Linked DNA regions of Homo sapiens. The protein of the gene in region 3 interacts with the protein of the main gene of each other region in a pairwise test. Each region holds a gene or a part of one and is shown on either strand. Other genes may lie near its edges.

Evidence for each region.
Region 1: the proteins of CELSR3 (region 3) and TRIP12 interact in a two-hybrid assay, tested with the Homo sapiens proteins (one large-scale study listed by IntAct).
Region 2: the proteins of CELSR3 (region 3) and MCM3AP interact in a two-hybrid assay, tested with the Homo sapiens proteins (one large-scale study listed by IntAct).
Region 4: the proteins of CELSR3 (region 3) and IFT140 interact in a two-hybrid assay, tested with the Homo sapiens proteins (one large-scale study listed by IntAct).
Region 5: the proteins of CELSR3 (region 3) and RACGAP1 interact in a two-hybrid assay, tested with the Homo sapiens proteins (one large-scale study listed by IntAct).

Annotation. Positions count from the first base shown.
Region 1 is NC_000002.12:229,911,136-229,915,509, forward strand, and holds part of TRIP12 (E3 ubiquitin-protein ligase TRIP12), read right to left. Parts: intron 1-4,374. UniProt on the Homo sapiens protein: E3 ubiquitin-protein ligase involved in ubiquitin fusion degradation (UFD) pathway and regulation of DNA repair.
Region 2 is NC_000021.9:46,278,565-46,282,938, reverse strand, and holds part of MCM3AP (germinal-center associated nuclear protein), read left to right. Parts: intron 1-2,363; coding exon 2,364-2,442; intron 2,443-2,801; coding exon 2,802-2,946; intron 2,947-4,374.
Region 3 is NC_000003.12:48,645,812-48,650,185, forward strand, and holds part of CELSR3 (cadherin EGF LAG seven-pass G-type receptor 3 precursor), read right to left. Parts: intron 3,405-4,374; coding exon 3,310-3,404; intron 3,118-3,309; coding exon 2,908-3,117; intron 2,651-2,907; coding exon 2,455-2,650; intron 2,186-2,454; coding exon 2,030-2,185; intron 1,118-2,029; coding exon 952-1,117; intron 447-951; coding exon 279-446; intron 58-278; coding exon 1-57. UniProt on the Homo sapiens protein: Receptor that may have an important role in cell/cell signaling during nervous system formation.
Region 4 is NC_000016.10:1,601,876-1,606,249, reverse strand, and holds part of IFT140 (intraflagellar transport protein 140 homolog), read left to right. Parts: intron 1-1,767; exon of another isoform or gene 1,768-1,835; intron 1,836-3,658; coding exon 3,659-3,880; intron 3,881-4,374. UniProt on the Homo sapiens protein: Component of the IFT complex A (IFT-A), a complex required for retrograde ciliary transport and entry into cilia of G protein-coupled receptors (GPCRs).
Region 5 is NC_000012.12:49,990,956-49,994,745, reverse strand, and holds part of RACGAP1 (rac GTPase-activating protein 1), read left to right. Parts: intron 1-236; coding exon 237-332; intron 333-416; coding exon 417-615; intron 616-2,090; coding exon 2,091-2,196; intron 2,197-2,368; coding exon 2,369-2,501; intron 2,502-2,612; coding exon 2,613-2,748; intron 2,749-3,790.

The DNA.
Region 1 (4,374 bases), on a different chromosome or scaffold from region 3:
AGCAGTAAAACAGATAGACTTCACGAATATTTTTATTCTAAAGTCCACAAAATGTTGGACAATACAGCCTTCCTTACTCTACAAACAGGTACAATTCTGAGTCATAAATCTGCATAGCTAGCATCTCTGCTTTCTACATAAGAATCAAATTAATCCAAACTGCAATTAGGAAAGTCTGTAAGAACACACCAGAAATAAAAGCTGCTAAAGAAAGCTAAATATCATAGCTATCAGAACACTGAAAAAAATTGTTTTTAGTTTCTCTTCAGCCACCATACAACCTAACTTCTCATTTTTAAAATCCTGTATACATACTTGTATAAAAGTAATGGTATCTGTTAAAGGATATAAAACTGTGCTAGATAGGAAGAGTATGTTCTCCTGTTCTATTCCACTGCAGGGTGACTATAGTTTAATATACAGTTTCAAATAGCTAGAGGGAAGATATTGAATGTCCCAACACAAAGAAATAATAAGTGTCTGTGATGATGGTATGCTAATTACCCTGGTCTGACTACTATACATTGTATGTATTGACACATTACTAAGTGCCCCATAAATACATACATATTATGTGTCAAAATAAAATTTTAAAAACAATTAAAGGGGTAACAACTCTACTATGCAGAGTGCAAAGCGAATATTTTATTAGAATATTTAATTTGATTAAACTATGTAATATTAATTTGTACTTTTTAAAAGTATTTACATATTTATCCCAGAGTCAGTAATGGCTAGAAAAAAAAAACCAGAAGTATTTAAATATTTAAGCCACAATTCACTTTTGTTTTAAACATAATTTCACTGTATTGAACGCTAAGCAAAAGTTTCCCTATATAAGACTTACAAATTACTGAGGACAACTCACAAAAAATCATGCATTAGGTATCAAAAAGTATTTTGAATTACAAAAAATCTGAACAAACAACAGTTGAATGTGCTGAGACAAAATGACTGATAGCTTCCACTAAAGGAAGACTTCTGTGTCCAACAGAGGACTGGTGTGGGTCATTTAGACAATAAACCAGCTTCTGCTTATTTAACATTTTAAACAACAGGAAAAAACAAGAAGTTTTACCTTCACTACTTCTATCTCCTCCAAAACTTAATACAAAAACTTTTATATGTAGTATCAGAAAGGGAAGCACTGTCATAAAAAATGACATCTAAAAGCACTTTTATTTTTGTTTTCAGTTCATTCATAAATATTTTTGTACACCTTTTTCACATCACCTATTCAGGGATCAACAATCATTCAACATAATCTGTTAAATCTAATTCCGTGATCTCCCATTTAAGAACTTCAATAATCTCAGCCCAATTTCCTGTTATTTCATATATATGGACCCTCTACTCCAGAGAGCCCATTTACCTTAATATTAGATCCTCACCACAATTACACCTTTAAGCTCCCCATTCTTCTATATCTTCCTCCAAACAATCAGGGCCAGTTTAAGCCCCTCTCTCTTCATAGTCTTCCTAAGTAACTTCAACCCAGAACTGAACCTCTCTAAACTTCCAAGTACCCACTGTATAAAACTCGATCTTGTACTTAATAACAAATATGCACAATGTTAGATGTTGTGTGCTGTAGTCGTAAGTTTCAACTCATCTACAACAAAGTACATTTCAAGATAAGGAATCTCCTTTTATAAATCTCTTCTTTTTCAGCACCCTCTAAGAGGGCAGATCTTGTATGGAACCAGATATGCACTCACATTAGCTGCTGATGAGTATTTGTTTTTGTTTTTTGAGACAGAGTCTCACTCTGTGGCCTAGACTGGAGTGCAGTGGCATGACGCACTGCAGCCTCAACTTCCTGGGTTCAAGCAATCCTCCCAAGTAGCTGGGGCTACAGGCATGCACCACCACATCAGGCTAATTTTTTATTTTTAGTAGAGATGATGTCTTGCTGTGTTGCCTAGGTTGGTCCTGAACTCCTGGGCTCAAATCATCCTCCTGCCTCAGCCTCCCTAGGGGTTGGAATTACAGGCATGAGCCACAGCACCTGGCTGAATATTTGTAAATGAAGATGCTTCAACAATTTATTTAGTATAGCCACAAATCATGCCCTAATTCATGTTTCTTAATTTACATTCTAATATCAGATTTTCTAAATGCAGAAAATCTACATTTAGAATTTTACAGAATATTTCTCTATGCTAAATACTATACTCCTATATACAGTTTTAGACAAATAAGCTGTGATGGAATAAGATAAATATCAACTATATGAAACATAACAGAACTTGGAAGACAAGGAATAAGTTTCAGGTCCCTTTTATATTCTGTCAAGCACAATTGTGGCACACAGTAAGCACTTGATAAATATGTATTGATAAATAAATCATCATCTACTAATAAACATCATCTCCAAATGCTAAATTTGGGGTAACCAACTAACTAAAATATTCTAGGGTCTTAACAATTCCTTAAGTAGCTGATTTTAATGAGCCTAATTTTGAAAAATTTATATTCTACACTCAGCTGCCAACCCCTGAAAAATGAAAACAAGCAAGTAAATTATGGCAAACGATGCTAATATTATTTCACAACATCGTTTCTCAATGTGTCACACCAGAACACACTACCACGTACACCTACCATGTACAATGCATTATGTTGGAAGCCTTGTGCTAGACACTGTGAAGATAAAAGAATGAGATCTCTACCTTGAAGAGGCCAAAAACCCAGTTAAGTTAAAATGTAAACAACTAATTATGTAAGACAGAACGTGAAAGTCATCCTGAAATATGTTACAGAAGGAGAATAGGAGAGTAAGGAGTAAAAATTTTAAAGGAGTCACTGGAAGAAAGTTAAGTGTAAGTATATATATTTCTAAGAGATACAGGCCAGGCGCGGTGGCTCACACTTGTAATCCCAGCACTTTGGGAAGCCGAGGTGGGTGGATTGCCTGAGGTCAGGAGTTGGAGACCAGTCTACAATCCCAGCTACTCAGGAGGCTGAGGCAGGGAATCGCTTGAACCAAGGAGGTGGAGGTGGAGGCTGCAGTGAGTCGGGATCGCACCACTGCACTCCAGCCTGGGCGGCAAAGCAAAACTCTGCCTCAAAAAATAAAAATAATAATAAAAATAATAGATACAAGATGTGAGAGGGGGTGTCAATTCAAGTAGACAAAAAACCAAAGCAAAAATGCTAAAAAGTTGCTGGGTGTGTTCAGAGAGGAAGAAACAGTTCAATCTGATTGCAGCCAAGGATGTAAAACAGAATTACGAAACACTGGGGTCTGAGAAGTTGACAGCATTTGCATATATTTCCTATTTACAAGGCTACTAGAAGCACTTGGTTTTTGAGAATCAAAAAAAGTAGGGGACATTCATATGATCTCTATGAACCTGCTCTCTAAGGACACAAAGTAGCTTAAATTACAACTGAAGAGAGAATTTCAAGAGATGGGCTACTGTGAAAACTCACTTTAGGTTTCCAGGGCATCGCACATGTTTACCAGTATAAAATCTTTAAATTAAGTTCATCTGACCTTAAGAACACAGCACAAGGTACATCTATTTATTCAGAGCACTGCCCACGGCTAGAGTGAGTAGGAGTTTTGAAGTCAGGGTAGAACTCATTGGTTATGACAGCCAACAAGTTGATTAAAATACACACTGAAATGCTGTAACTTCAAGTCTTGAAGGCTTGTTGATGGACACTTAGGCTTATAAATAGCCTTCAAAAATCCATGTATGGGTAATAACACCATATTTATAGAAATATGTACATGCTCTCTAAAAAGAAACAAACAGAATAAACTACAATGATGTATACTATTATAAATTGGAAACACTAATCATTTAGCACTGCATTAAAACATATTGGCCAGGCACAGTGGTTCATTCTTGTAATACCAGCACTTTGGGAGACCAAGGCGGGTGTATCACGTGAGGTCAGGAGTTCAAGACCAGCCTGGCCAACAGAGTGAAACCTGTCTCTACTAAAAATACAAAAAATTAGCTGGGTGTGGTGGCAGGCACCTGTATCCCGGCTACTCGGGAGGCTGAGGCAGGAGGATTGCTTGAACCCGGGAGGCAGAGGTTACAAGTGAGCCAAGATTGCGCCACTGCACTCCAATCTGGACAACACAGCGAAACTCAATCTCAAAAAAAAAACTTATTTAGGTCCTCAATGTACTTTATCAACTATTACATGCACATAATGGTCAATTAAAGAGTAACAAAATGGCTTGCCCTAATTCTTTTTAAAATGTATGATTTAAAGTAACTTGCAGTCTCCAAAATATATACTGACTAAAAGTCTCAAAGTCATTTTAGCATTAACGATGCAAAATAAGAATCAAAATTTTAAAAATAGGACATTAAGCCATTACAAAATATTTCCACTTACAGTATCTTATTT
Region 2 (4,374 bases), on a different chromosome or scaffold from region 3:
AAAGAAAAAGAAAAAAAGTGAAATTCCCCTTGTCAGTCTGTCCTCTAGAGATAACTGCTTTGAAGCACTGGGTTTGTATCCTGACTTTAAATGTATGCATAATACTTTCTTTTTATTTATTTATTTATTTTTTTGAGATGGAGTCTTGCTCTGTCACCCAGGCTGGAGTGCCGTGGCATGATCTCGGCTCACTGCAAGCTCCACTTCCCGGGTTCACGCCATTCTCCTGCCTCAGCCTCCGGAGTAGCTGGAACTACAGGCGCCCGCCACCACACCCGGCTAATTTTTTTGTATTTTTAGTAGATACGGGCTTTCACTGTGTCAGCCAGGATGGTCTCGATCTCCTGACCTCACGATCTGCCTGCCTCGGCCTCCCAAAGTGCTGGGATTACAGGCGTGAGCCACTGCGCCCAGCCTAAATGTATGCATAATACTTTCTAGGGTGCAGTGAACGTGGACTGCTTATGTTATATAGCTTTATATCGTCACTATTTTTTCTGAGTATTCTCATAGACAAAATTACGTTCTATAGGAATTTATAAAGTATAAATTTATAAAGTGAATGATACTACATTGAGTGGATGGACTACGTTTTGTTGATTCGTCTGTTGGCAGACGCGGGTTGTTTCTACTTTTTGGCTATTGTGAATAATGTTCATTGGCATATGACTTATTTGAGTCCCTGCTTTCAGTTTTTTGGGGTATATTCTTAGGATTGGAATTGCTGGGTCATATGGTAATCCTAATTTGTTTTTAGTTTTAATTTTTTTAATTAAAAAAAGTTTGTATTTTTACATTTGTATAGATGGGGTCTTACTGTGTTGCTCAGGCAGGTCTCGAACTCCGGTCCTCAAGCTGTCCTCCTGCCTTAGCCTCCCAAAATGTTGGGATTACAGACCTGAGTCATTGTACCGGCTCTCATTTTTGTTGTTGTTGTTTTTGAGACGGGGCCTTGCTCTGTCTCCCAGCCTGTATTGTAGTGGCGCAATCTTGGCTCACTTCAACCTTTACCTTTCCAGTTCAAGCGATTCTCCTCCCTCAGCCTCCCAAGTAGCTGGGATTGTGTGTGCACCACCATGCCTGGCTAATTTTTGTAGTTTTAGTGGAGAGGGGGTTTCACCACGTTGGCCAGGCTGGTCTCGAACTCCTGACCTCAGTGTTCCACGCACCTTGGCCTCCCAAAGTGCTGGGATTACAGGCGTGAGCCACCATGCCTGGCCTTGTTTTTATTATTTATTACTACTATTTATTTTATTGTTATTTTATTATTTATTTATTTTTTTGAGATGAAGTTTCACTATGTGGCCCAGGCTGGTCCTAAATTCCTGGGCACAAGTGATCCTCCCACCTCCACCTCCCAAAGTGCTAGGATAACGGGCATGAGCCACCATGCCCAACCCCCTTTTGTTTTTACAGTTATTTTTTGCCTGTTGCAATGTGCTTATTTTCCCAGCTGAACCTTAAATATTTTATGACATAACTAATATGTAAATAGACTGCCTTTATAAACAATTCATTGATACAGACAAAACTGAATATCCTCATCTCTCCTGTTACTCAGGAGCAGTCCAGTTAACTAGTGTGATGTGTATTTTTTTAGACATTTTTATGAGTGTATCTACACGGAGACTAACGTGGTTGGTTTTGTGTGTGTTTTCTGTGGTAAGTGGCATCCCATGTGTGTTATTCTGCAGCTCCCTTTTGTGCTTAATTGTGACTTCGCAAACTTTCTGTCTCTGTATGTGTGATCAGCTGGTGAGAATCATCTCACCAAATGCCAACAAGGCCAAGTTTGTGAGTTCTATGAAGCAAAGTTGTTAATTAAAAAAAAGGGGCCGGGCGCGGTGGCTCACGCCTGTAATCCCAGCACTTTGGGAGGCCAAGGTGGGCGGATCACCTGAGGTCAGGAGATCAAGACCATCCTGGCTAACACGGTGAAACCCCGTCTCTACTACAAATACAAAAAATTAGCCGGATGTGGTGGCGGGCGCCTGTAGTCCCAGCTGCTCAGGAGGCTGAGGCAGGAGAATGCATGAACCCTGAAGGTGGAGATTGCAGTAAGCTGAGATCTCACCACCGCACTCCAGCCTGGCTGACAGAGCGAGACTCTGTCTCAAAAAAAAAAAGGGGGAAAGAGCAAATACATGCTTGTGAGACAGGTAAGGGAGATGAATACTGCTGCTGCCGCAGCCAGAGACCATGCAGTTAGCAGACGTGTGGGTGGAGAAATCACTGTCGTGCAAAGGACAGGAGCTCCTGGTGCCTTTGAATGGTCTGTTGTGCTTACTGCATTTGAGTTTTCAATCCCATTTCCTTTGGTTTCCTGATATACTCACACATGGCGGTTGTGGACTGTTTTCCAGGCATCTGCAGCCCTGGCTAGAAAGAAGGGGAAAAGTTTGCATAAAGACATGGCTATCTTTTGGCACAGGAAGAAAATAAGTGAGTTTTCAATTATTCTTTTCACTTTTTAAAAAAATTATTTTTATTTATTTTATAGAGATGAGATCTCGCTATGTTGCCCAGTCTGATCTTGGGATTACAGGCATGAGCCATTGTGCATGGCCCTCTTTTCAGTTTCTCATGCTCTTGGTCCAAACCCTTTGAGCGTGAGCCCTTTCCCCAGCCAGTGGAGGAGGCTGGCTCTCAGTGGATTTGCATCTCACAGTTATTTCCTTGGGCTCTTCTCTAACCTCCTGTGACAATGAAAATAATATTACTTTCTTAGAAACAGAGTGAAAAAATCCAGTTCCAGGTGATCTGTGATTGCATAAACTCTTTTCTGCCTCCTATGTCCACAGGCCCCAATAAGAAACCCTTTTCCCTGAAGGAGAAGAAACCAGGTGACGGTGAAGTCAGCCCGAGCACAGAGGATGCACCCTTTCAGCACTCTCCTCTTGGCAAGGCCGCAGGGAGGACTGGTGCTAGCAGCCTCCTGAATAAAAGGTGGGATCGGTCCCTCCTAATGACCTTATTCCGGAAGGACCAGGAAATAGCGCCCTATAGCGACACCTGAGTCAGGGTGCAAGACTGTGGGGAGTGGTGAGGAGACAAAAGCCAGTTGCTAGGGATGGTTGGGGGTGGAGGGGCAGGGGCTCTGCCCCTCCTGCCAGCATGGGCCGTTAGGAGGTGGGTCTGTGTGGGGCTGGTGGTCCCAGCCAGAAGAGAGAATTTTCTGACACTGGTAACTGCCAGCTGCAGAGATGGTGGAGAGCAGTGATTCTGTCCTGTCTTGTTCTCATATACCCTAGGGCCAAGGTTGCTGAGAAAGCCTTCCTTTGGGGCTGGCCTTTTTTTCTTGTTTCCATCTTGGCATTTTCTATGGGAGAATCTCATCACACAGTTGTTATAGCTGGTACAGACCTTTCAGCTGCAGCTACAGGAGATCCAGGGGAGGCTGCTCACTTAGGACAGCAGAACTTCTGTCCTTGCACAGAGTGCCTGCTCTGTGGGACACACGCAGGCTGGCGCCCTGTGGCGGGTCGCTGCCTGCCTCACAGGATTGTAGTAGGAAATCTCCTTGCTCATCTAACTCGTCCTGAATCCCACTGCAGTTAAGTGCAGTTCCACTTGACATATAAATGTATAAGCAATAACTTTTTACCTCAAGACATTTAACTGGCTGTAATAAACCATGCATTCCTTTTTTTTTTGAGACACAGTCTGGCTGTTGCCCAGGTTGGAGTTCAGTGGCACGATCTTGGCTCACTGCAACCTCTGCCTCCTGGGTTCAAGAAATTCTCCTGCCTTAGCCTCCCTAGTAGCTGAGATTACAGGTGCGCTCCACCACGCCCAGCTAATATTTTTGTATTTTTAGTAGAGATGGGGTTTCACCATGTTGGCCAGGCTGGTCTCGAACTCCTGACTAGAGATGCATGCCCGGCCAAACCATGCATTTCTAATAATCACTTTCAGCAGTTTCCAGCATTACTTTTTTTTTTTTTTTTTTCCTGAAGAGCTGTCTCCTGGCCGGGCGCAGTGCTCACGCCTGTAATCCCAGCACTTTGGGAGGCCAAGGCGGGCGGATCACAAGGTCAGGAGATTGAGACCATCCTGGCTGATATGGTGAAACCCCATCTCTACTAAAAATACAAAAAATTAGCCGGGCATGGTGGCAGGTGCCTGTAGTCCCAGCTACTTGTGAGGCTGAGGCAGGAGAACTGCGTGAACCCGGGAGGCGGAGCTTGCAGTGAGCCGAGATTGCGCCACTGCACTCCAGACTGGGCAACAGAGCGAGACCCCATCTCAAAAAAAAAAAGGCTGTCTCCTAAAGGAAGGGCAGCATGACTTTTTGCAGGTGCAGCTTATCACAGTGAAGCAGACACGGTCGGCCATGTTAGTTGTGTTAACCGGCATGTGATGTGAAGTGCCCTG
Region 3 (4,374 bases):
CCATTCCTGTGCACCAGCTCGCAGTCCCGTGCTGTCCACACACCATGCTGCTCCGCCCTGCAGCCACAGGGCAGTTAGACACAACTGTGACCCAGTGTCAGGCAGGGGTTTGTGAGAGATCATGGGAAGGGCTGAGGGTGCCTGGAGTTGGGGTACAGCATTCCTCATGGTCCGGGTTGCACAACAGCACTAGTGGGGGCCCCAGGGGAAGGCTGGGACTATTAGTTGGCCTCCCAAGGGCTAACGGGACCAAGGGTTTCCAGAATGGGGGTCCTCACAGGCCAGGTGGGTCCCACTGCACACAGATCGCCTTGCTCCGATTCGCTGTCTGTAGCAGGCGAAACTCTAGGCTGATGGGGGACTCCAGGATTCCCCTTAGGAAGTTGCGTCCGTGGAACACAGCCACGCTGACCACCGGGGAGTTCATGACGGGGTTCTGAGGAAGCCTGGGGAGACACCCATCTGGGCTTACGCACTGCTGACCTCCCCATGCTCAGCCTGCTTGCCTCACCCCGTCTTCATGCCACTCGCCAGGGCTGACCCAGGGTCTGGGATGTCCCCAGAGTGGAAGCTGTTTCTAAGAATCCCTCCAGCTTCTGCTGGGCTGCTGAGGGGCTGAGCAGCTCCAGGGGACCTGCAACTGTTTGCCTCTGATTGCCCTCCCTCCTACCCCCATCAGTCAGCCTGTCCTTGTCTGTCTCTGTCAGCCCTTTGGTCTGTCTGTACCTGGCTCATGGATCCCTCCTGTGTGTGGCTCTGTGTCTGTCAGCCTGTGGCTCTGTCACTCTGCACAACTCCAGAGAATAAGATTCACACAGAACCCGGCAAGGATGGGGCTCCCTGGAGCTGTGCTCCTCTCTGTGTGTTGTGAACCTACGCATCTACCCACCAAAAAAGGGGCTGCCAGGCTGAGAAGTTCGTAGGAAGCTCAGGGGTGAGGGGCCTGAGTACCTGGCACCTCGGCGTTCTGCCTGGAACTGGGCAGGGAGCAGTCCCCCTAAGGTGCGGTAAACGAGGAGAATGATAATGGAGATCCCAGGCTCTGGCTCTGGCGGGGCTGGTGGGGGGACCACACTTGAGGTGGTGGAGTTTTCTATGCTGCTGCTTGTGGGCAGAACTGCCAGGAGAGAAGGAGGAGCTTCTGTCAGTGACCTTTGACCCAAAGCACCCACCAACCCAGCTCTGAACCCGATCAAGCATGGGGGTCTCTTCCCTGCAGGAGCAGAATTGGGGAGTGCAGGGAGCATGAACCCAGAAAGTAACAGTCAAGGCCTGGGAGGGGTCATTTGTGATGAGGGAGAGGCTCTGACAAAGTGAAGGTGTGGCAAGGTGGACAGTGGAGGGGAGATGTGGGAGGGAGGGTGGAGGGGAGATGTGGGAGGGTGGAGGGGAGATGTGGGAGGGTGGAGGGTGGAGGGGAGATGTGGGAGGGTGGAGGGTGGAGGGGAGATGTGGGAGGGTCGAGGGTGGAGGGTGGAGGGGAGATGTGGGAGGGAGGGTGGAGGGTGGAGGGGAGATGTGAGAGGCAGGGTGGTGGGTGGAGGGGAGATGTGGGAGGGTGGAGGGTGGAAGGGAGATGTGGGAGGGAGGGTGGAAGGGAGATGTGGGAGGGAGGGTGGAGGGGAGATGTGGGAGGGTGGAGGGTGGAGGGGAGATGTGGGAGGGTGGAGGGTGGAGGGGAGATGTGGGAGGGAGGGTGGAGGGGAGATGTGGGAGGGAGGGTGGAGGGGAGATGTGGGAGGGAGGGTGGAGGGGAGATGTGGGAGGGTGGAGGGTGGAGGGGAGATGTGGGAGGGAGGGTGGAGGGGAGATGTGGGAGGGAGGGTGGAGGGGAGATGTGGGAGGGTGGAGGGGAGATGTGGGAGGGAGGGTGGAGGGGAAATATGGGAGGGAGGGTGGAGGGGAGATGTGGGAGGGTCTGACACTGGGGAGGTCTAGAAAGGGGAAAATTGGCAGGAGGGCAACATAGTATCTGGTTGGGGGGACAGAGAGACAGGACTTGGCCCAGGGGTCCCCTAGGGGCTCTCACCTTCAGATGGGGATGGCCGTGGGGACTGGGAAGGCAGCAGCACATGGGTGTGAGGATCCCAGGCATCCTGGCCTCGAAAGAGGTTGCTATGGTAGCGAGGGTAGCGACGGGCCCCCCGGGGAGAACTGGGGTGCTCCATGCGGTCAATGCTGAGCACTACCCAGGAGAAAGAAAGGGGAGGCCCATCATGGACCTCTTCCCCCTGCCAAGGGTTCTACTCCCTCTTACTCGCATCCCGCACCTGAGTCCCACAATCTGTTTTCTGTGCTACCAGCTCGGAGCCTGTCCCTACAAAACGCTGAGGGCGGTGGCTGAGTCTCCTGCCATTAACATTGGCATTGATAGCCACAGCCCCTCAGACCTTCAGGTACCTGCCCTTTCATGGCCCCCCTGCTGTGCCCCGCCCTACCCCACCCACAACGCACTGATATTAGGCGTCACCAGCCCCATGGGATTCAGGTATGTGAGTTCCATATTCCTTGCGAGTGTGGCTGCATACTCCTCCAGGTGCCTCACCAGTCCCGCGCTGCCTGGGGAGCCCCCAGGGGCCCGCTGCCCCAGCGCCGCCCACAAGTCCCCTGTCTCTGGGGCAAGCAGTGCAGAGCCGGCCCACAGCAGATTCTGGGAAGACAGAGATAGAATTGGGTTCAGCCAGGTGGTGAGGATGTATGAGGGGATAGGGCAGGCATGAGAGGTCTGGACAGGTGCTCAGAGGGGCTCCAACAGGCAAGGGGGCGGGGCTGGAGAGGACAAGGACAGAGGGAGAGCCCAGGACCTTCACTTCCCAAGAGAACAGCAGGAGCCTGAGCTGGGGATCCAGGGGCAGGAGGCTGGGAGCTGGGGGGCCAAGGCACTGAGAACATAGGGCACAGCCCCACCTCATTGAAGTGGGCATCCTGTGTGGCTGTCAGCCCGAAGCCCTGCTGATGGCTCTCGAAGGCCAGCAGGTGGGCCAGCAGGCGGGCAGTGACTCGAACATCTTGGCTAAAATAGTGGTCAGTGTGGCCAGTCACCTCCCGTAGCCGCTGAGCCAGCTTCTTGGCCTCCATGGTATCCAGTGCCGTCTTGTTCAGCTCTAGGCCATCCAGCTGCCAAGACAAGGAGATGGTTGCTCTGTGGTCCCTTAGGCCTTCCTCTAAAGCTTCACAGGGAGAAAGCCTTGCCAGATTAAAGGGCAACCAGGAAAGGCTCAGGAGTTCAAGGGCTAGGGTGTGGTATCTGGGGCCCACCACAGGCCAAGGAAGGTCTTAGGTTGCAGGAAAAGGTCTGGGCAGTCTCACCAGCAGACTGAGCTCTCGAAAGGCAGGGGAGGTACAGTTGAAGAGGTCGGGCTCCAGCCAACCCTGGGCCTCATCACACAGCCGCACAGCAGCACCTGGAGGCAGGCAACCCCTGGTCAGGCCTGGGGCCTGGATACCTTTGCTGAGGAGATAACCGCAGCACCCTCTCCTATGCTGGGGGAATCCCTGAGGCAGAAGTCAGAGTCATGAGCATCTATAGCTGCACCCCTGGAGGTAGCGGCCCAAGCCCAGGTAGGCCCCAGCTGCTTGTCAGGCAATTCCTGAGAGGGCTGTAGACCATTCTCAACCAGCAACCACACAAAGCACAAGGGTGGGGCTGCACACACTCACCCACGTGGGCCAGGACTGGCTCATAGATGTGCTGGTTCACACAGACACACACCAATGCTCACCAATTACACACAGATGTATGGACCAGACCAGTACGCAGACACACAATGCTCTCTCGCACACACACAGACATGCCAACACAGAAGAGGGCTTCTAGGAACATCCAGTGAAAGTCAGGTGGGAGGATTCTCACACAAGTTTTAACTGCCCCAGTGGTTACTTTGCTGTCATTTCTCTCCCTTGTCTCTGGGGTTGGGATGGAGGTTGAATGAGAATTGACTTGGATCTTAAAAAAGTTTGTAGCTACCAACAAGAGAGAGCCTAACTTAATCACAGAATCCCCTCCCCGCAACAGGTTCACAGACACGTGCACAGGCACAGAGATACACACGTGAGCATGCGTACACAAACAATCTCTGTCCAGCCACTGCAGAGACCTCAAGCAGCAGGGAGTGTTCTGAGGGGACCTCAGGCAGTGGGGAGGGGCCCCCAAGCAGCAGGAAGGAGCTATAGGGTCCTCAGACTGAGGAGGGATCTTTCGTGACCTCAGGCAGTGGGGAAAGTTCTATGGGGACCCCAGGAACTGAGAAGGGGTCAGCAGGGTCCTCAGGCAATGGGGAGGGGTCTCTGAGGATCTCAGGCATCAGAGAAGGGCCCCTGGGGTACTCAGATAGCCAGAAGGGGCCTGCAGGGACTTTAGGCAGCAGGGAGGGG
Region 4 (4,374 bases), on a different chromosome or scaffold from region 3:
CTGTCAGTGCCCTCCTGCACGCTCCATAGGGGCCATTTGGAACTCTAATCATTTCCACAAACTGGGTGGCTTTAAACAACAGGAAGGTATTCTGGCAGCTCTGGAGGCGAGAACTCCAAAATCAGGTGTCAGCAGGGCCCGCTGGCTCTGAAGGCTGAGGGGAGTGTCTGCCCCGAGCTGCTGTCCTGCTCCTGCTGTTCCCAGCAAGCCTTGGTGCTCCCTGGCTGGCAGATGCGCTGCTCCAGCCCTGCCTCTGGTGTCATCCGGCCTTCCCTTCTGTATGTCTGCGTCTCTTCTCCTCTTCCTAAAAGGACATCAGGCATATGTAACTAGGGCCTGCTCTAATGACCTCACCTGAGCTTACCCACATCTGCAAAGACCCTGTTTCCAAAGGACGCCATGTCACAAGGACCAGGGATAGGACTTCCACATATCTTTGTGGGGACACAATTCACCCCCTAACAGAAACGTTCCCCAAGCTCCTCAGACTTCGATAATCACCCTCTCGGTGCCCAGTGCACCTCATATTCCATAAAGAAAATGAGGTGCCAGGTGCGGTGGCTCACGCCTGTAATCCCAACACTTTGGGAGGCCGGGGTGGGTGGATCATGAGGTCAGGAGATCAAGACCATCCTGGCTAACACGGTGAAACCCCGTCTCCACTAAAAATACAAGAATTAGCCGGGCGTGGTGGCGGGCACCTGTAGTCCCAGCTACTCAGGAGGCTGAGGCAGGAGAATGGCATGAACCCAGGAGGCAGAGCTTGCTGTGAGCCGAGATCACGCCACTGCACTCCAGCCTGGGCAACAGAGTGAGACTCCATCTCAAAAAATATAAATAAATAAGAAAATGAGGTTTCCTCCTCTACTCACTCTTCAGCCCTCTGCAGGCTCCCTATTGCCACCACAACTTCACCCAAGCAGCGACAGTCATCAGTTGCTTCTAGGTGTCACCCCCTGAGTGTTTTGGGGTCCTTGTCTGTACCACACTCCTGTGAAGTCCTCTGGGAAACATGCCCGAGAGCGCAGGGGTAGGGCGTTCCCTGCCCGGCCTCCATGGCTTTGCCAGCTCTTCCTCCATTTCCAGCTTGTGAGCACCATGGCCTTCTGCAGAGCTTGGTCAGGGCTCCTCTCCATTTCTTCCTTCTCCTGTGATCTGAGCATCCCCAGTGGCTTGCAGACATACATCTCCTGCCTAGAAGTTCCCTCTGAGCTGTAAGCTTAGGGACCCAGCTGCCTTCCTGACATCTCTAGGGTGTTTCAAGGAGACCTCAGACTGTACAAAACTGAACTGAAATTGTCCCCCACCCTTCCCCTGCCTCATATCTCCTGCTCACTGAGATGGGCACCTCCCATCTCAATGAAAGTCACCCCCTTTATCCTGGTTTCTAGAACAAGAACCTGGGCATGACTGTTGACATTTCCCACTCCCCTACCTTGTAATCCATCACTAGATCCTCCCAGTTTCTCCCCCGGAACCTCTGGCGAGTCTGCTGCTGCTTGCCCTTCCAACCGCCCTTCCCTCCTCCAGGTTCCCATCCCCCTCTCCTGGACACCAGTACAGCTTCCTACTGTGGCAGCTGTGCCCTCACAGGCCTCCTCTACTTTACACGGCAACCAGGCCTGGCCTGTCTTGGCATCACAGATGGAATCACTCCCTGCTCCCACCTCCCCGGCCCTGTGCTGCTCTTTGGGTGAACATGGAGTCCCTGATGTGGCCCCTAGCGCCTCCCAGGTCTGGCTCTGTCACCTGTCACATCAGGCTCACCTTCCTTGATGCTGACACAGCCTTGCACAGCCTTCCTCGGCCTTCCAGCCCTGCACATGCTGTGCCACCTGCAAAGAAGACACTCCTTCATCCATTTTTGTAATTAATGCATTAATCCTTCAGGTGAAAGTGGCTAAGTGGCCCCTTAGGAACTGCTCCCCCCTCCACACACACACACACACACACACACACACACACACACACACACGCCCTTGCAGCGCGATGCAGCGCTGGTCAGCGGCTCCCCTGTTGCCAGCAGGCTCCTCCATATACTGGCAGCTTTGCGAAGGCCGTGCCAGACTTAGGGCTCAGTCCAGCCCCAGCACCAACCCCACTTTTGCCCATTTTTTTGGGTAGATTCTCCCTTGCAGGAGCCTATAACATATATGGTAAATGGGATATTTTTTAAAATAAATATTATTAAATTCCAAAGTTATAGCAATTTTAGGTAAAATTTTTAAATTTAGAAGATCTAAAGCATACTATTATAAAACTAGTCAATAGCATATTTCTGTGTTTCCAGTTGGCACAAGGAAAACTTCAGGATTTCAAAATAGTGATCTATTGGACAATGATGAGATCACAGAAGATGGCTCCTAAGCCCAGTGGAACAACTGGGGGCAAACCAAGTTAATCTCTGAAAACGCACTTATATCTTCCCCAAAGCTGCTGCTTTAGAAAATTTTAGAAAACACAGCACATGGCCGGGCACGGTGGCTCACGCCTGTAATCCCTGCACTTTGGGAGGCCGAGGCGGGCAGATCATGAAGTCAGGAGTTTGAGACCAGCCTGGCCAATATGATGAAACACTGTCTCTACTAAAAATACAAAAATTAGCTGGGCTTGGTGGCGCGCCTGTAGTCTCAGCTACTTGGGAGGCTGAGGCAGGAGAATCGCTTGAACCTTGGAGGCGGAGGTTGCGGTGAGCTCAGATCATGCCACTGCAGCACTCCAGCCTGGGCTACAGAGTGAGAATCCATCTCAGAAAAAAAAAAAGAGGAAACGCAGCACATATCTCACAAGCTGTCATTAGTGACATCACCACATCACACAGCCTTTGAAAAGCTCCACTGTAGACGCGTGAAAGAAGGAGAGTATGAATGGCACTAACCTGTCACTATTATTCTGAAAATAATTTTCACCTTTCAGATCCCTGAAAGGGTCCTGGGGTCTCTGGACAACACTTTGAGATCCCTGGGGCCACAAACCTCACCTGCTGGCTCGCTGGTGGTTTTTGTAGATAAGGTTTTAGGGAACCCAGCCACGCACTAAAATGCGTGCCAGCCATCCAGCAGCCATGGGGAGGAGGTGGCACATCATGACAAGGTGGCACTCCATGAGAAGCTGGTCGGGGTTGCCAGCTGAGCACAAGTTACCTTCTGCTTTGGTAGCTCAGCTAGGGGCAAGGTTGGTGCGTTTTTATGAAAAATTAAAGAGTCTACTGAGAACATTGCCCCATTGCCTTAATAGCTTTTGTACCTTGTCGCCAATGTGGAGTCCACAGATCACACAGAAGTTTTGTTTGTTTGTTTGTTTGTTTTTGGAGACAGAGTCTTGCTCTGTCGCCCAGGCTGGAGTGCAGTGGTGCGATCTGGGCTCGCTGCAACCTCTGCCTCCTGGGTTCAAGCAATTCTCCTGCCTTAGCCTCCCGAGTAGCTGGGACTACAGACGCCCGCCATCACACCTGGCTAATTTTTGTATTTTTAGTAGAGACGGAGTTTCACCAAATTGGCCCAGCTGGTCTCGAACTCCTGACTTTGTGATCCACCCACCTCAGCCTCCCAAAGTGCTGTAATTACAGGAGTGAGCCGCCGTGCCCGGCCTAGACAGAAGTTCTTAAAAGTAGCTGTCCCTCTCTGAACTGTGGGAATTTGCCTCTCATCCAATGCAGGGGGAGTGCGTGCCAGATACACACGTCGAGAGGCCGTTCCGGGTTGCTTCCCTGTGCTGGCACCCGACGCGGCTGGTGCTGGCTGTGGGCTGGGAGACTGGAGAAGTGACGGTGTTTAACAAGCAGGACAAGGAGCAGCACACGATGCCCCTGACACACACAGCCGACATCACCGTGCTCCGTTGGAGCCCCAGTGGAAACTGCCTGCTGTCTGGGGACAGGGTGAGTCAACACGCGCAAGACGCTGTTTTCAGACCTTGACCCTTTCTGACCATGCTCGAGAGTATGAAAGATCAAAATATGGGAACCGTGCTGTTGCCAAATTCAGTTGATCTTGTCAGATGCAATTGTAGATTTTGTTTTATATTGGAAGCAAGGCTTGAAAATTTGCCACTCTGTGGCAAAGGTGTGTCTGCACCTTTATAAATGAACTTTGCTGGGAAACTGCATTCGTAAAGATACGTGCCCAGATACTGTCACTTTTCCCTAGGCCTGTTTGTCTAGCTCAGGGCTTCTTAACCAGGGTTGGTTCTGCCCCCCAGGGGACATGGGGCAGTGTCCAGTCACATTTTCTGTTGTCACAATTTTGGGGGAGGATTCAGCTGGACCCCTGTGGGTGGGTGGTGGATGCTGCCCACCATCACACAGTACACAGGACAGACCCACAGCATAGCGACATGGTGCAGAGGCAACTGAATCACAAATATATGGCAGAA
Region 5 (3,790 bases), on a different chromosome or scaffold from region 3:
GGTGTATATATGAAAAAGAAAAAGTGTGGTATATATGATAATAAATCAGTCCTGGTGTGGAGGTAGGAAAAATAATTGAGAGTCTCTGTTTTAATATATGCTTTGGGAATAGGAATGTAAAAGTAGACATGATGTCCCAGTTTGAGAATAAGATTGGAGGTGGTTCTTCGCATGTGGTCTTCATCTGTTGGTCTACATGGCGTAAATAATAATTTAAAGCTCTTTTTTTTTTCCAGGGAATGCTGGCAGACTTTGTGTCCCAGACTTCTCCAATGATCCCCTCCATTGTTGTGCATTGTGTAAATGAGATTGAGCAAAGAGGTCTGACTGAGGTAAGAGTCAACTGTAGGAGATGGTGAATTTGTTATTTGTGTTAATTCGGAGGTTTTTAAATAAAAATGTCATCTTGATAATAGACAGGCCTGTATAGGATCTCTGGCTGTGACCGCACAGTAAAAGAGCTGAAAGAGAAATTCCTCAGAGTGAAAACTGTACCCCTCCTCAGCAAAGTGGATGATATCCATGCTATCTGTAGCCTTCTAAAAGACTTTCTTCGAAACCTCAAAGAACCTCTTCTGACCTTTCGCCTTAACAGAGCCTTTATGGAAGCAGCAGGTAAGGGCAGATGTAATACTTGAATATGAATTCCTCCACGGCAGTAGTTTTTCTTACTCTCTTTATTTTTTTATTTATTTTTTATTTTTTAGACAGAGTCTCACTCTCGCCCAGGCTGAAGTCAGTGGCGCAATCTCAGCTCACTGCAACCTCCGTCTCCCAGGTTGAAGCGATTCTCCTGCCTCAGCCTCCTGAGTAGCTAGGATTACAGGCGTGTGCCACCATGCCTGGTTAATGTTTTCTATCTTTAGTAGAGATGGGGTTTCACCATGTTAGCCAGGATGGTCTCGATCTCCTGCCCTGTGATTTGCCTGCCTCGGCCTCCCAAAGTGCTGCGATTACAGGCGTGAGCCACCGTGCCCAGCCTCTTTTTTTTTTTTTTTTAAGACGGAGTCTTTCTCTGTCGCCCAGGCTGGAGTGCAGTGGCGCTATCGGCTCACTGCAAACTCCGCCTCCTGGGTTCAAGCGATTCTCCTGCCTCAGCCTCCTGAGTAGCTGAGATTACAGGCGTTAACGGTGTTATACCATGTTAGCCAGGCTGGTCTCAAACTCCTGACCTCAGGTGATCTACCCACCTTGTCCTCCCAAAGTGCTGGGATTACAGGCATGAGCCACCACACCTGGCCACCTTCCTCTTTTTATTAGCTCCTGCCTAGTACAATGCCTGAAACATAGTAGGTGCTCAAGTAGTTTGATGGATGAGTAACTGTATGCGTGTCACCCTTGCCTATCCTCTTGCTTTCTCATTACGTTATTGTGTACAGTGTTCTTCCTTTCTTTCCTTCCTCTCCAGTTAGGTTGGAGCTTTTTCAATTCTTAGAATATACCAAGTTTACTCCCTACCTTAAGGCCTTCACATTTGTTGTCTCAACCTGAATGCTCTTACATTAGATACAGTATGGTTTGCTCCTTTATTTCTTTCATATTTCTCTTCATATACCTTGTCCCCAGAAACACCTTTCCTGACAACCTTGTCTAGATTAACAGCTCTCATTTCTTTCTAGCTTCTTGCCTGCCTTGTTTTCTTCATTTATGTATCACTCTACCTGATAGGTATTTGCTTTTTGACTGACTCCACCAATAGAATGTAGGTTCCATAAGATAAGGGCTTTGTTTACTTCTGCTTTATCCTCAGCACTTGTACCTGGCACATCGTAGGCCCTTAAATATGTCTCATGAATGAATACCTTCTTGGTAATTGTAGTCACTGCAATTGTATGCCTGTCTGCCTAGCACATCAGTTGCCAACTGCTTTCCCTAACTGCAAAGGCCGATTTTTTAAAAGTTTTGACTTCTAATATTGAGCTGTTGGCCAGTATCCTGCTTGTTAATGAAACTAGAGTCTGATGTAGTCATGAACTAATCAGGAGTTTCAGAAGCTTACTGTATAGATGAGACTTTGTGGTCGATAACTTGGAAGCCCGCTGTCAAGGGAAAGAAGTCTAGGCCTCTTGGTGCTTTCTTTTCAATTACAGAAATCACAGATGAAGACAACAGCATAGCTGCCATGTACCAAGCTGTTGGTGAACTGCCCCAGGCCAACAGGGACACATTAGCTTTCCTCATGATTCACTTGCAGAGGTGAGTACAGCAGAAACTTGTTCTGGGAGTTAGGGAATTTTTTTCCAAGGGGAAGATAATGTGGGTTGAGTGTTTGGGAGTATGAGGGATGAATTGTTTTCTTATAGAATTTATATTTTGGTCTGCATTTAAGCAAGGAGCAAGACTTCTAATTTAATATTCTTTTGCTTAGAGTGGCTCAGAGTCCACATACTAAAATGGATGTTGCCAATCTGGCTAAAGTCTTTGGCCCTACAATAGTGGCCCATGCTGTGCCCAATCCAGACCCAGTGACAATGTTACAGGACATCAAGCGTCAACCCAAGGTAGGCAGGTGCGTGTGTGTGTGTATGTGAACTTGTGTAATGTGATAACTTGAAAGACAGTTGAGAAGCCCTGAGCTTTGGAAGTTTGCTAACAGATTTGCTGGCTTTTAGGTGGTTGAGCGCCTGCTTTCCTTGCCTCTGGAGTATTGGAGTCAGTTCATGATGGTGGAGCAAGAGAACATTGACCCCCTACATGTCATTGAAAACTCAAATGCCTTTTCAACACCACAGACACCAGATATTAAAGGTAAGGCCCAAGATGTGCTTCTTCAGGGACTTGACTCTCTCTTTAGTTTTAGTCATATGACCTCTTCCTGCCTTTGCTAGAGCTGTTTGAAAATTCTAACATTAAAGGAAAATTTGTATAATTCTACCATCGTAATTTTTTTTTGCTTTTCCATGTTCTCCTTTCTTTATCCATATGGATATATGTTTTTTAAATATAGATATAATAGGCTGGGCATGGTGGCTCACACCTGTAGTCCCAGCACTTTGGGAGGGAGGCTGAGGCGGACGGATCACAAGGTCAGGGGATTGAGACCATTCTGGCCAACATGGTGAAACCCCATCTCTACTAAAAATACAAAAATTAGCTGGGTGTGGTGGCGCATGCCTGTAATCCCAGCTACCAGGGCGGCTGAGGCACAAGGAATTGCTGGAACCCAGGAGGCGGAATTTGCAGTGAGCTGAGATCCCGCCACTGCACTCCAGCCTGGTGACAGAGTGAGACTCTGTCTAAAAAAAAAAAAAAAAAAAAAAAAAAAATATATATATATATATATATATAATAGTTTAAATATAATTCATTCTTATTTCACTTAGCATGTTGTGAGAACTTTTTCTCATGTATAATCTTATTTATCATTTACTTAAATGTTCTAGTAGGTATTAACATTATTTTTCAATTTTTCATAATTACAAGTAATGCTATAGTCAATATAGCATTTCTCTTAATGATAAATTCCTAAGAGTGGGATCACTGAATTAAATGGCTTGAACATTTTTATGTGTCTTGGTATGTTTTACCAACTTGATTTATTAAATTTCTTATAGGCTTTTGCCAATTTATATTGCTAACCAACAATTTTATATGAATAGGCTGGTTTCACTCCAGTCTCACTGGCATTGGAGACCCATTCTTTCATTATTGCAAGTTCCTTCTAAGGGAGCATATTGCTTCTTCTAGTATAGCTAAAAGTCAGATGTTTAGATGTTAGATTTGTGAAGTGTGGAGTTAGAGAATGGCCTAAATCAGGACGTGTCAGCTATTCATTGAGTTCAAAAGATAC